4 linked regions of the Homo sapiens genome follow. The protein of the gene in region 2 purifies or fractionates together with the protein of the main gene of each other region. This does not show direct contact. Each region holds a gene or a part of one and is shown on either strand. Other genes may lie near its edges.

Region 1 (3,434 bases), on a different chromosome or scaffold from region 2:
TGAAACCCTGTCTCTACTAAACACACAAAAATTAGCCTGTAATCCCAGCTACTCAAGAGGCTGAGACAGGAGAATTGCTTGAACCCAGGAGGCGAAGGTTGCAGTGAGCCAAGATCATGCCACTGCACACTAGCCTGGGCAGCAAGAGTGAAACTCCATCTCAACAAAAGAAAAAAAAAACCTATGCTTCCCTTCCATATTGTAACCACCTTGACACATTTCCTTCCTTATCACACATTTCCACACATTTGCTTCCTTATCTCTTTCACTGAGTTTTTTCTCCATCATTCTTAAGTCCAGGAAGAAAAGGGCTATGCAAATTCCTACTCACCTCAAGCTCCCCCACCCCTTACTTTCTCTAAGTGTCCACAAAATTAAAGTTTTATCTTCGAGAGGCAGAACTTAAGTGATTGTACCTACCCATTCTATTTCCTCCCACATTATAAAAATGATGCAAGACTTTATTCCTACTCCACATCAACGCCAGAGGATCACACAACTACAAATTCCCATGTTTTACTCAAGGGTAATCATGTCAAGGGTGAAGCATGGAAGCTTTACTGAGAAATATTTTGCCCATATTCCTTCAGACTTTCCCAGTTTCATAATGTGATTTTTACCTAAATTGAACCTGCAAAGCTCAAAAGTACATAATTGATTATATTTACTTTCAATATAATCAGTAATTGATCCATGACTCCTAACTGGCAATATCCACTCCACCAACCCAAGAATAAATATTTACCTTAAGTTCTAACTAGCTACTTTGGGAAGCTGGGGAAGCACAGGAAAAATAATGGGCTACAAGACCAACACCATGATGACTCACATAAGTGAAATATATCTAACTACACATAACACACATGCTTCAAAAAAGACAGGCCAACAATGCCTAAACTCTTTATTTCACCAACCAGTATTTCTGATTTTCTTCTTGATACTGGATTTTAAAACCTTAGAAGTCTATAAATACTGCATTCAGACTTTCCACATCAAGAGAAAGGGGACCAGGGCAGAAGATGTCAGGCCCCATGCTGTTTTGGGGTGGGAAAAGTGGCAAAGAATTCTCAACAGCCTGTGTCAGTTTTCTAACTTAATTGAAACACCTTTAAGCTCTCCTTCATCCCCAAACTTTCCCCTATGGTGTCTATGATAGAAAAACACTTCTCTCTCATATATGTCCCATCACTAGGGAGCCAGGGGGAAGGGAGTGGGCATTACACAGGCAAGCCAAACTTTTTATTCAGCCAGAAAATGGATTTCTGATTCAGTTTAATGGTAAGGAGTTGTGTAAAACCGTACCAAGTCCTGCTTCTTCCTCAGAGTGAGCTGGGCTGCATTTTTGTGACTGGAAGCATTTCTCATAATGGTGAATTAAGCACTATAAAAAAATAAAGTCAATCCCATCTCTATGAGTAGCATAAGAGCTGCTTCCAAGAACCCAGGGATGCCCACATCCCATAACCCACCCAGACACGGCCAATTCCTCATAGACAGCTACATAAAACCCTTTCGTCAACTTGTTTTGGGGGGTGAGAGAGAGGCAGTGCTTAGGGAAGATGTAGGATGGATTTTTTTTATTCCTGCCACTACCAAAAACTATAAATCTACACACACACTCACACGCACATACATGTCCATTTTTAAGAAAGCTTTTCCTCCCTGTGACTACAGGAACCCAGAATCCAGCCTCCCTCAGGCTGAGAGACGATGCCTATTAACGGCACAGATCTAGCATATCAACATACTATAGAAGGCTCCTGTGTTGTCTCACAAGCTGAGAGGGCAGGGCAAAGAAGTGGACACTCATGGGGGACTTGCTTTTTGTCTTAAATCCAATCTACTCAGTAACACTTGCAGGTCCAGGGGCTGGGAGAGGTTCTGTGGGCACAACGTGGTGGACGACCTGATGGTCCCAGCCCACTGTGGTAAGCAGGGAGTGATTGAGCGGGGACCAAGTCGCATCTCTCACAAAGTCTCTGTGGGCTTGGCTTCTAAACCTAGAAGAAAGAAAAAAAGTCGGGGCAGAGTAGAGACAAGAAAAGCAGACCTGGAGAAAAAAAGAGAACCCAACACATCTGGGGCACATTTTTTGGGTGTGTTACACACATTTCACCAACTGTATGGCCTCATCGCCAGGATAGCAGTGTAGCTATCCACAGTGGATGTCATCAGTCATCCAATCCAGTCTTCTATTTTCATAGATGAAGAAATGCTGGATAGAACAAGACAGTGATGAGGGGCAGTAACAGGCAGCAAATCACGGCAAGGAGGGAAGTACAATTCAGGTCTTCCAGGTGCTGCCTTTTACCCTGTAGCAGGCTGCATTTCATACGCAGTTCTTTATGTGAGAGGGTAGACTGCCGCCCCCTTGTGGGAGAGCGCTGGAGGGCTAGACTTAAAAATTTCACCTACCACCCCCCTCTACCAAGGACACGGCTTGTCCTTGGGGTTGTGAATGTGCCCCAGGAATGGACAGGGTCAACAGCCAGCCTGCTTCCATTACCAAGTCCCTTCGGATACAGATGGAGAATCTGTTCTCCAAAAGCACAACACAGTTTTCTGAAGAGGAAAATGACTCGCCCACCCACTGCTCCCCTTCCCTGATTCCCAAAGGATTCCACTTCACACTTACAACTCAGAAAGGCTTGAGTCCAGCACAGCAAGTGAGCAGTCTTCACTGAGAGAGGCCAGGAAGGGAACACTATCAGATGGAGGAGAGGGTTGTGAAAGGTCCAGCCTGGATCCCAAGACAAAACCTTAACTGGGCCGGCCCTGCCGCCACTGTAAAGTGACCCAGGAGAGGCAGCCTGATTCCCACTTTTGGCTAATCTGGCTACTACAAGTCCACACTAAAAGTTTCAAGTAAAGATGAGGGAAATGAAGCAAAGTTAGGGTTGACAACCATCCTGGCAACTAACCACCCCATCTGGTCCCTCTCTATAGCTTCAGCAATAACCCAGAAACACAGGCTTTTCCAATCTCACAGTCCTAGAAGCCCACAACATTAACCATTTTGGGTGTTGGGCAGGAATGAAATCACATTTTAGCCATTTCAGACAGAAACCATCTAATCTGAAAAATCCTTTGACTCCCAAAGGATTCTACTTCACACTTAAGAGATCTTCGATGTTCCGAAACCTCAGCTAGAACACTGTCTGCTTTAAGGAACTACTTCATCAGCTAATGCTTTGAAAACATACACACACACCCTCACGGTTCCCATTTATACCCATCAGGCCCCTGATGACAAAGAACAGTACCTGTGTGGGGAGAACACCAGCCCAGTGACACACTGGGAGTGTACAGCTGAGCTCAGGACACAGCTTGTACTCTTGGTGTCCACAAGGGAGACTGTCCCATTCTCATCACCTGTAGAAGAGAAGGAACATGTCATAGTGATTAAGAGCATGGACTTTTGTGCCAAAGACTTG
Region 2 (2,437 bases):
TCCTGCCTCAGCCTCCCGAGTAGCTGGAACTACAGGCACGCGCCACCACACCCAGCTAACTTTTGTATTTTTAGTAGCTATGGGGTTTTACTATGTTGGCCAGGCTGGTCTCGAACTCCTGATCTCAAGTGATCTGCCCACCTAGGCCTCCCAAAGTGCTGGGATTACTGTGAGCCCACGCTCCCAAAGTGCTGGGATTACAAAGGCATGAGCCACTGTGCCCAGCCCCCTGCCGTTTTTTTTTTTTTTTGAGAGGGAGTTTTGCTCTTGTTGCCCAGGCTGGAGTGCAATGGCACAATCTTGGCTCACTGCAACCTCTGCCTCCTGGATTCAAGCATTCTCCTACCTCAGCCTCCCAAGTAGCTGGATTACAGGCATATGCCACCATGCCCAGCTAATTTTTGTATTTTTAGTAGAGATGGGGTTTCACCATGTTAGCCAGGCTGGTCTCGAACTCCTGACCTCACCTGATCCATCTGCCTCAGCCTCTCAGAGTGCTGGGATTACAGGTGTGAGCTACCACGCTTGGCCCCTTTTTTTCTTTTTCTTTTTTTTTTTTGAGATGGAGTCTCACTCTGTCACCCAGGCTGGAGTGCAGTGTCGCAATCTTGGCTCACTGCAACCTCTGTCTCCCGGGTTCAAGTGATTCTCGTGCCTCAGCCTCCTGAGTAGCTGGGATTACAGGCGTGCACCATATCGCCTGGCTAATTTTTGTATTTATTTATTTATTTATTTATTTATTTTTTGAGACGGAGTCTCGCTCTGTCTCCCAGGCAGTGGCACTATCTCGGCTCACTGCAAACTCTGCCCCCTGGGTTCACACCATTCTCCTGCCTCAGCCTCCCGAGTAGCTGGGACCACAGGCACCCGCCACCACGCCTGGCTAATTTTTTGTGTTTTTAGTAGAGATAGGATTTTACCTTGTTAGGATGGTCTCGATCTCCTGACCTCGTGATCTGCCCTCCTTGGCCACCCAAAGTGCTGGGATTACAGGCGTGAGCCACTGCTCCCGGCCTAATTTTTGTATTTTTAGTGGAGAGGGGCTTTCACCATGTTGGCCAGGCTGGTCTCAAACTCCTGACCTCAGGTGATCCGCCCACCTCGGCCTCCCAAAGTGCTGGGATTACAGGCATGAGCCACCGTGCCTGGCCTTTTTTTTTCTTTTAACTCTCACAACAACCCTATCTTCATTTTACAGATGTGGAAGTTGAGGCACAGAACAGTTAAATAAAAACAATTTAAAAATTGTGGTAAAAGATGCATAACCTAAATTTACCATGTAACCATTTTAACGCATATAATTCAGTAGCCTTTTAGCACAATGGCAGTGTTGTGCAACCATCACCACTACCTAGTTCCAGAATCTTTTCATCACCCTAAAAGGAAACCCTGTGCTCACCAAGTAGTCATTCTCCATTCCTTCCTTCTCTGAGCTCTTGGCAACCACTAATTTGCTTTCTGTCTCTGTGGGTTTATCTGTTCTGGATAGGCAAATGTGAGTTGCCTGTAAAGGGAATCATAACAATATGTGGCCTTTTGTGTCTGGCTTCTTCCACTTAGCGTATTTTCAAGGTGCATCCATGCCGTAGCATGTATCAGCACTGCATTCCTTTTTATGGCTGAATAATTCCATCATATGCATATACCACATTTTGTTTTTCCATTCATCCATTGATGGACATTTGATGTTGTGTCTACCTTTTGGTGATTGTAAATAGTGCTGCTGTGAGTATCCTTGTTTTATTTGAACAGCTGTTTTCAGTTCTTTTGGGTATATGTTTAGGACTGGGATTGCTGGGTCATATGGTAATTCTATATTTATGTTATGGAACTAGTTAAGTAAATTTCAGCTCAATCACACTTTTTTTTTTTTTTTTTTTTTTTTTTTTGGAGACAGGGTCTCACTCTGTGCAATGGCACGATCTTGGCTCACTGCAGCCTCCACCTCCCAGGTTCAAGCGATCCTCCCACCTCAGCCTCTTGAGTAGCTGGGATTACAGGTGCATGCCACTGCACCCAGCTAAATTTTTTGAATTTTTTGTAGAGACAGGGTTTGCGACATTGTTCAGGCTGGCCTTGAACTCCTGAGCTCAAGCAGTCCACCCACCTTGGCCTCCCAAAGTGCTAGGTTTACAAGGGTGAGCTACCGTGCCCGGCCCAGTCCGATGTTTGGTAATTGACAAAACACGGATTTGAAATCAGACAGTCTGGCTTTAGACCCCTTGCTCTGAACTATCACTTTATTGCTTATCACTGTTACTGTTGTTCCAGTATTAAGAGCATGGCTGTTTTAGGCTGATTGCCTTCTCTCCTGGGACCTGGCATCACCAAAGCACTATGTGCTCGGAAATCCATTATCTTTCCCCAGTCTTTCCTCCGTTATTGTGAGGCCTTTTGAAAATGTACCTTCCGGCCTCCCTGATGTCAGAGGGAGGCA
Region 3 (3,500 bases), on a different chromosome or scaffold from region 2:
TTAAAAAATCTGACAATAGACTGGGTGCAGTGGCTCATGCCTGTAATCCCAGCACTTTGGGAGGCTGAAGCAGGTGGATCACCAGAGGTCGAGTTCGAGACCAGCCTGGCCAACATGGTGAAACCCCGTCTCTACTAAAAATACGAAATTAGCTGGGTGTGGTGGTGGGTACCTGTAAATCCCAGCTACTCGGGAGGCTGAGGCAGGAGAATTGCTTGAACCTGGGAGGCAGAGGCTTTAGTGAGCTGAGATCACAGCACTGCACTCCAGTCTGGGTGAGTCAGAGGCAGACTCCGTCTCAAAAAAAAAAAAAATCTGACAATATCAAGCATCAGGATATGGGGCAACAGGGACTCATATAGGGGTGTGAATTAGTATAGCTGCTATTGAAAAATAACTCAACATGATCTTGTAAAAATGAAGTTGGGAAGATACACATGACCTATGACCTAGCAGTTCTACTCATAGATACATACTCCTGAGACTTTTCTTGTACTACAGTATAAGGGGACAATCTACAAAGATGTTCATTGTACTGTTTGTAATAGCAAAAATCCAGGAAACAACACAATGTCTATAGATACAGAATGGATGAATAAATTGCAGTATATTCACATAATGGAGTAGCATACAACAGTGAAAATGATTCAGCTACAGCTGTACATAACACAGAATGAAAAACGTGAAGAAATTAACAGTATATTATATACAGAGATAAACTTCAAGGGAATGATAAATATAAAATTCAGAATGGTAGTCACTCAAGGGGAAGGACATACAGGGTTTCAAAGACAGTAATTTTCTCCGGGTAGTGAAAATGGTGTTTGTGGCATTACTATTCCTCATGCCTTACCAATTTCATAAATACTCTTTTTATCTGCAAGATTTACTTTTAAAATTTGCAAAAATTAAATCTTATTGGAAAGATAAAATATTTAGAATTAATCAATAATGAAAGTATTATATAGCTTGATACAACAAAACTTGTGATTTGCAGCTGAGTGCCTAATATGTATCTGGCACTGTATCAACCACTGAGGATGTAACAATAATCTTGCCTCCCTGGAACTTCCATTGTATTTGTAGAAGACAGACAGGAAAATCAGCTTCTGAACTTTACAATGTAGAAGTTGATATGTAACATGGAGGAAAAGAGAATAGGAAATGTTTGGGTGTGGGGCAGGAAGATTTCCTCGAGCACACGGCATTCAGCAAAGACTTGAAGGGGGATGAAAATGTGAGCCATGTAAATATCCAGGAAAAGAGTGTTCCAGACAGAGGGGACTGCTAATGCAAAGGCCCTGGAAGGGATGTGTGCCCAGTGTGTTGAGGAAACACAGCCCAAATGCCTGAAGTAGTGTAAGCAAGGGCAACAGGGACCCTGTCAGGCAATAAAGAGACTTTGGCTTTTACTTTGAATTGAGATGGAGAGAGACTTAAAACATGCTTGAGCAGAGGAGGGAAGTAATCTTTAAACAAACAAACAAACAACAACAACAAAAAAAACAGAATCTCTGCTTCTTGTGTTGAGAGTTGACTGAAGGGGCCAAGGGCAGAAGCAAGGACACCAATGTATTACAGTGTTCCAGCAGGGAGATATCAGTGGCATAGACCAGAGTGGGAGTGTAGAATGGGTAAGAAGTGGTCATAGTGTAAGTATATAGTCACATGCTGCATAATGACGTTTTGGTCAATGACGGGCTGCATATACGGCAGTGGTCCCATTAGATTATAATACTGTGTTTTTACTGTACCTTTTCTATGTTTAAATGTGTTTAGATACACAAATGCTTATCATTTTGTTACAATTAATTGCCTGCAGTATTCAGTACAGTCACATGCTGCACAGGTTTATAGCCTAGGAGCAGCAGGCTGTACCACAGAGCTCAGGTGTGTCCTATCGGGTTCAAATCAGCCTATTTATGCTAACTCCAACCAGCTGAGAAGTTTCACAACGAATCAGTGCCAATTAAATGCTTAGGAATTCACGATTTATTGTGTGGCTTCTACACAACAATCATGTAACTCTATCCAACACACATAGGCATTAATAGAGAAGGGAAACACAGCAAGTATTCTGGGAGACCAGCACACTGACTGAGAAAACCAGGTTTGGTTTTCCTCAGAATGCCCACTGACCTGGTGGTGGGTAGCTGCTCTTTTCCCAGAGGGCTTACCACAGCCAAAGGAAAGGAGGCCTCAGAGTTCTCATGGGCAGAGATTCTGCAGGCATCTCAGCCATGATTGGCTTTTACGGCTCTCCACAGACATCTCCATGGCCATTATCTTCAGCTGACTTTTGGCTTTACTTTCTTGTCAGGTGTCAGGGATGCCTGGCCACAGCAGATGCTATCTTATCACCTCAGTCCACCACACATATGCTTACTACTCTGAGTGGTCAGTGATTTCACTGTAAGCTGAGTCACTTGTCATAAGTGACTCCATTATGAGACATTTATGATCATAAAACATAATTATATATCAGTGCATAATAGGCTATACCATCTAGGTTTGTGTAAGTGCACTCTAGGATGTTTACACGTGACAAAAATCACTTAACAACATATTTTCCAGAACACATCCCTGTCATTAAGCAATGCATGACTGTATTTTGAAGGGTTTACTAACTGATTAAATGTGGGCTAGGAAAGGAAGAGACGAAGATTATTTCATTTCTGCCTTGGTAACTGAAAGAATAGGGTTATTGTGAACTGAAATGTAGGTGACTATAGAAAAGCAGATTTGAGGGGGAAATTTGAGGAACTCAGTTTTGGAGTGTTAAGTTTCAAGATGCCTTTTAGACATCCAAGTAGATATGTATAGTAAGCAGTTGGTTATGTCTTGAGGTCGGGGCAGAGATCTGGACTAGACATATAAATTTGAGAGCCATCGACAAAAAGAAGATATTTAAAGACATAAGATCGAAGGTCTTACTTAGAAAATAGTTCACATAAAAAGGAGGTTTGGAGACTGAGTCCAAGGCACCCCAATATTAAGAAGTTAGCAAATTAAGAGAAACCTACAAAGGAGTCTTAGAAGAAGTGGCCAAAGAGGTGGGGGAAAACCATGGTTTGTATTAGTGATCTTGAAAAAGTAGTATTAATGGAAAGAAGGGAATGAAAGCTTGATTGAAATGGGTTTAAGAAGATAGGAGGAGGACGTGTAATCTCTTGAGGAGTTTTTCTACGAAAGGAAATAGAAATGTTTTAAGTAGGGGGGAAGTGAGGTCAAGAGAAAGCTTTTTAAAAAATAACATCATATTTGTATGCTGATGACAGTAATCTAGAAGAGAAAATTTTGTGTAGGAGAGAGGCCTGGAAAGAAGTCCTTAAGAAGGCAGGACTCTAATATGCAAGAGAAGGGGTTGCCCTTAGATAGAAATGTGCACGTCCTTCTGCAGACTTTGGAGGGAAGACAGAATATATGTGTACAGATTATTGTATGCAGTAGATACAGTAGTGTAAGCTTGTGGAAGTTCTCATCTGATTGCTCCTATTTGC
Region 4 (3,500 bases), on a different chromosome or scaffold from region 2:
CATTTTCCATATTTACTCTTCTGGTTATTTTTACCTTGTATATAACAGCAGTTGCAATGAGAACTTAGATAAAGGAAAGGGGCTTATAGCTAACAGCTTAGCTTCTTGTTAGTCAGTAGGGACTCTCCAGTATGTGTGTATAAATGAGGATGAACTTTTCTGGCTATGATTTTTTAAGTTTTTTATTTTTATCAGAATTCCACATGCTCATTAAATGTCAAGTTGCAATAAAGTTTGTTTTGGAAAAAGCAATCCCCCAACCCCCCTGTCCCATTTCCTGTTCCCCTAAGGCAGTCATCTTGAAACATTTTAACTAATTCTTTTGGTTTTTCATCTCCCTGTCTTTAAGCAACATGCTTATATAATTGTAACACTTGCATTTTTTTTCTTTTTCTGTTAGTTTTCTCCATTATTTCCGGGCTTCTCTCTGTGGAAGATAAGGATTTAGTTTTCTCTTATCCCTGTTTCCCTGCCACATTCAAGCTCGTTTTTGTCCCCATCCCTAGCTTTCCATTCAGAAGTGTGATTTTGGGCAGATGTGTTCATATCCATTGTGACTGTGTAAATATGCTTCACAACTGAACCATGGCGGGTACTGTGATTACTTTTCCTGCACAAGTTTTTGCTTTCCTTGGAGTTACTAATTATCTTTTTTGTTTGCATAGTGTATATAACTATGACCAGATTATTTTGAAAATAAATCCCAGTTATGTAAGTTTTTTCTTAGTATATTTAAACGCATCAAGTGCTATGATCGCTTTTATCTACTTGAGAAAAGTCCCTTGTGGAGCCTTCTGACCGGCTTGATCTGAACAGGTTACCCCCTGCACCTGAAGCATCACGGTCAGCCTGGGCTATTTTTTTTTTTGAGATGGAGTTTTGCTGTTGTTGCCCAGGCTGGAGTGTACTGGCACAATCTCAGTTCACTGCAACCTCCACCCTTGGGCTCAAGTGATTTTCCTGCCTCAGCCTCCTGAGTAGCTGGGATTACAGGCGCCCACCACTATGCCTGGCTAAGTTTTGTATTTTTAGTAGAGATGGGGTTTCATCATGTTGGCCAGGCTGGTCTCGAACTCCATACCTCACATGATCCACCCACCTCGGCCTCCCAAAGTGCAGGGATTACAGGCATGAGCCACCATATGTGGCCTGGGCTATTCTTTTTACTGTCATCTTGGGGATTTTTTTTTTTTGTTTGAGACGGAGTCTCGTTTTGTTGCCCAGGCTGGAGTGCAGTGGCGCGATCTTGGCTCACTGCTCCCTCTGCCTCCCAGGTTCAAGTGATTCTCCTGCCTTAGCCTCCCGAGTAGCTGGGACTACAGGCATGTGCCACCATACCTGGCTAATTTTTTGTATTTTCAGTAGAGACGGGGTTTCACCGTGTTAGCCAGGATGGTGTTGATCTCCTGACCTCGTGATCCACCTGCCTCAGCCTCCCAAAGTGTTGGGATTGCAAGCGTGAGCCACCGCGCCCGGCCTGGGGATTCTTTTTAGCACCTGAGTTGGAAACCCTTCTTTCTTGGATTATTCCCTTGTTTTAGTGAAGCACATCTTCTAATAGAGAAAGTGCATAAGAGTTACATTTTTGAGACCTTGTGTGTCTGCAAACTTTGATTCACTGCTCAAACTTTAGTTTGGGAGGGTACAGAAGTGCAGGATGAAAATAATTTTTCTAGAATTTTGTTCCACTATCGTATTATTACTGTTGAGAAGTGCGGTGATATTCTGATCCTCATACCTTTGTCTGAGACGTGTTCTTTCTCTTTGGAAGTGTTCCTTTTTTTTGTTGTTGTTTTTTGTTTTTCGAGGCAGAGTCTCGCTCTGTTTCCCAGGCTGGAGTGCAGTGGTGTGATCTCTGCTCACTGCAAGCTCCGCCTCCTGGGTTCATGCCATTCTCCTGCCTCAGCCTCCTGAGTAGCTGGGACTACAGGTGCCTGCCACCACGCCCGGCTAATTTTTTGTAGAGACGGGGTTTCACCTTGTTAGCCAGGGTGGTCTCCATCTCCTGACCTTGTGATCTGCCCGCCTCGGCCTCCCAAAGTGCTGATATTACAGGCATGAGCCACTGTGCCTGGCCGAAGCTTTTCTTTTCTTCTCTTTTTCTTGTTTTTTTTTGTTTTGTTTTGTTTTGTTTTTTTTTTGAGATGGAGTCTCACTCTGTTGCCCAGGCTGGAGTGCAGTGGTGTGATCTTGGCTCACTGCAAGCTCTGCCTCCCAGGTTCATGCCATTCTCCTGCCTCAGCCTCCCAAGTAGCTGGAACTACAGGTGCCCGCCACCACGCCTGGCTAATTTTTTTTGTATTTTTATTAGAGACAGGGTTTCACCATGTTAGCCAGGATAGTCTCGATCTCCTGACCTCGTGATCCGCCTGCCTCGGCCTCCCAAAGTGCTGGGATTACAGGTGTGAGCCACGGCGCCCGGCCTCTCTTAGGAAGCTTTTCTATCCTCTGTTCTACATTTCATAGTCAGTTTGGCTATGTGTCTGTTTTTATCCATCACAGACAAACTGGAGGGGCCCTTCTTATCTGGGGGCTCGTCCCATCTTATCCTTTAGTTCAGGGGAATTTTCTTAAATTTTTTATTCTATCTTTTCACCTCCATTTTCTTTTTTAATGCCTTTATTTAGATTTTGGACCTTTTAAACTAGTCTCTGACTTTACCTTTTCTCTTCAGTTTTTCATCTTTTTTGCAGAATCTTCTGGAAGGTTTCTTCAACTTCAGTTTTCAGGTCTTCTACTTAATTTTTACATTTCTCCTGTCATATTTTTACTTTTGAAGTTGTTTTTGTTCTCAGACTCTTATTTGTTTATTTAATAACACCTTGTTATTTTATGGATGTAGTGGCTTAATAAACGAGATCTTCCTAAGGATTTTTTTAAAAGGTTCTCTTCTTTCTGTCATGGTCTATGTCCTCCAGGTTACTTTCTCCAGTTTGTTCGGTACCTATCTTTTCAGTGGAGGCTCTTCTCGAGTGTCTGGTGATTCTGACTTTTCAGTGTTCCATTGGAAATTCCGTGTACCTGATGGGTTTGGTTTACTGTGGGTCTTGGGTGTTTCTCGGCCTTGTTTACTGTGGGTGATCTGGCTGGGCTCTTCTGTTGGGGAATCCCTGATGTTAGTATTTTTAGGTCTGATCACATTCTGGAGAGAAAGTATTTCATAACCTGCTGTTGTTCTGGACCTGGGTTGGTGATCTCAACATGTACTGTGTACACTTTTATTTAAGCCGTTTTCAGTAGTACCGCTGCTTTCAGCTGTGGCTTGCATCCATCCTGTAAGAGGCTCTATGTTACTCTTTCCTGCAAGTTTGCAGTTTTCTGCTGGGTTGAGTAGGGAGTCGTCTAGTCATCTGCGGATGGGAGAGGGGATCTGACATCTATCCTAACTGCTTCGAAAACAAGACTTTGAAGGGATCTTTCTATTTTTAGACCTAACTTTCACTCATATTTCCAGAGCTATGAGGTGTCACCAATCCCTAAGACTTTTAAGGGTAATATAG

What was found. Proteins that work in one complex are often made in the same cells at the same time.
Region 1: the proteins of COPRS (region 2) and WDR77 purify together in Homo sapiens (affinity purification with mass spectrometry; 3 studies listed by BioGRID and IntAct, with this or other methods). This does not show direct contact.
Region 3: the proteins of COPRS (region 2) and ACAD11 purify together in Homo sapiens (co-immunoprecipitation; 2 studies listed by BioGRID and IntAct, with this or other methods). This does not show direct contact.
Region 4: the proteins of COPRS (region 2) and ATE1 purify together in Homo sapiens (co-immunoprecipitation; 2 studies listed by BioGRID and IntAct, with this or other methods). This does not show direct contact.

What each region holds. Positions count from the first base shown.
Region 1 is NC_000001.11:111,439,390-111,442,823, forward strand, and holds the end of WDR77 (methylosome protein WDR77), read right to left. Parts: intron 3,373-3,434; coding exon 3,264-3,372; intron 2,741-3,263; coding exon of another isoform or gene 2,705-2,740; coding exon 2,636-2,704; intron 2,001-2,635; coding exon 1,841-2,000; 3' UTR 501-1,840; downstream 1-500. UniProt on the Homo sapiens protein: Non-catalytic component of the methylosome complex, composed of PRMT5, WDR77 and CLNS1A, which modifies specific arginines to dimethylarginines in several spliceosomal Sm proteins and histones.
Region 2 is NC_000017.11:31,853,808-31,856,244, reverse strand, and holds part of COPRS (coordinator of PRMT5 and differentiation stimulator), read left to right. Parts: intron 1-2,437. UniProt on the Homo sapiens protein: Histone-binding protein required for histone H4 methyltransferase activity of PRMT5.
Region 3 is NC_000003.12:132,653,310-132,656,809, reverse strand, and holds part of ACAD11 (acyl-CoA dehydrogenase family member 11), read left to right. Parts: intron 1-2,139; exon of another isoform or gene 2,140-2,380; intron 2,381-3,500. UniProt on the Homo sapiens protein: Acyl-CoA dehydrogenase, that exhibits maximal activity towards saturated C22-CoA.
Region 4 is NC_000010.11:121,914,532-121,918,031, reverse strand, and holds part of ATE1 (arginyl-tRNA--protein transferase 1), read left to right. Parts: intron 1-3,500. UniProt on the Homo sapiens protein: Involved in the post-translational conjugation of arginine to the N-terminal aspartate or glutamate of a protein. This arginylation is required for degradation of the protein via the ubiquitin pathway. Does not arginylate cysteine residues.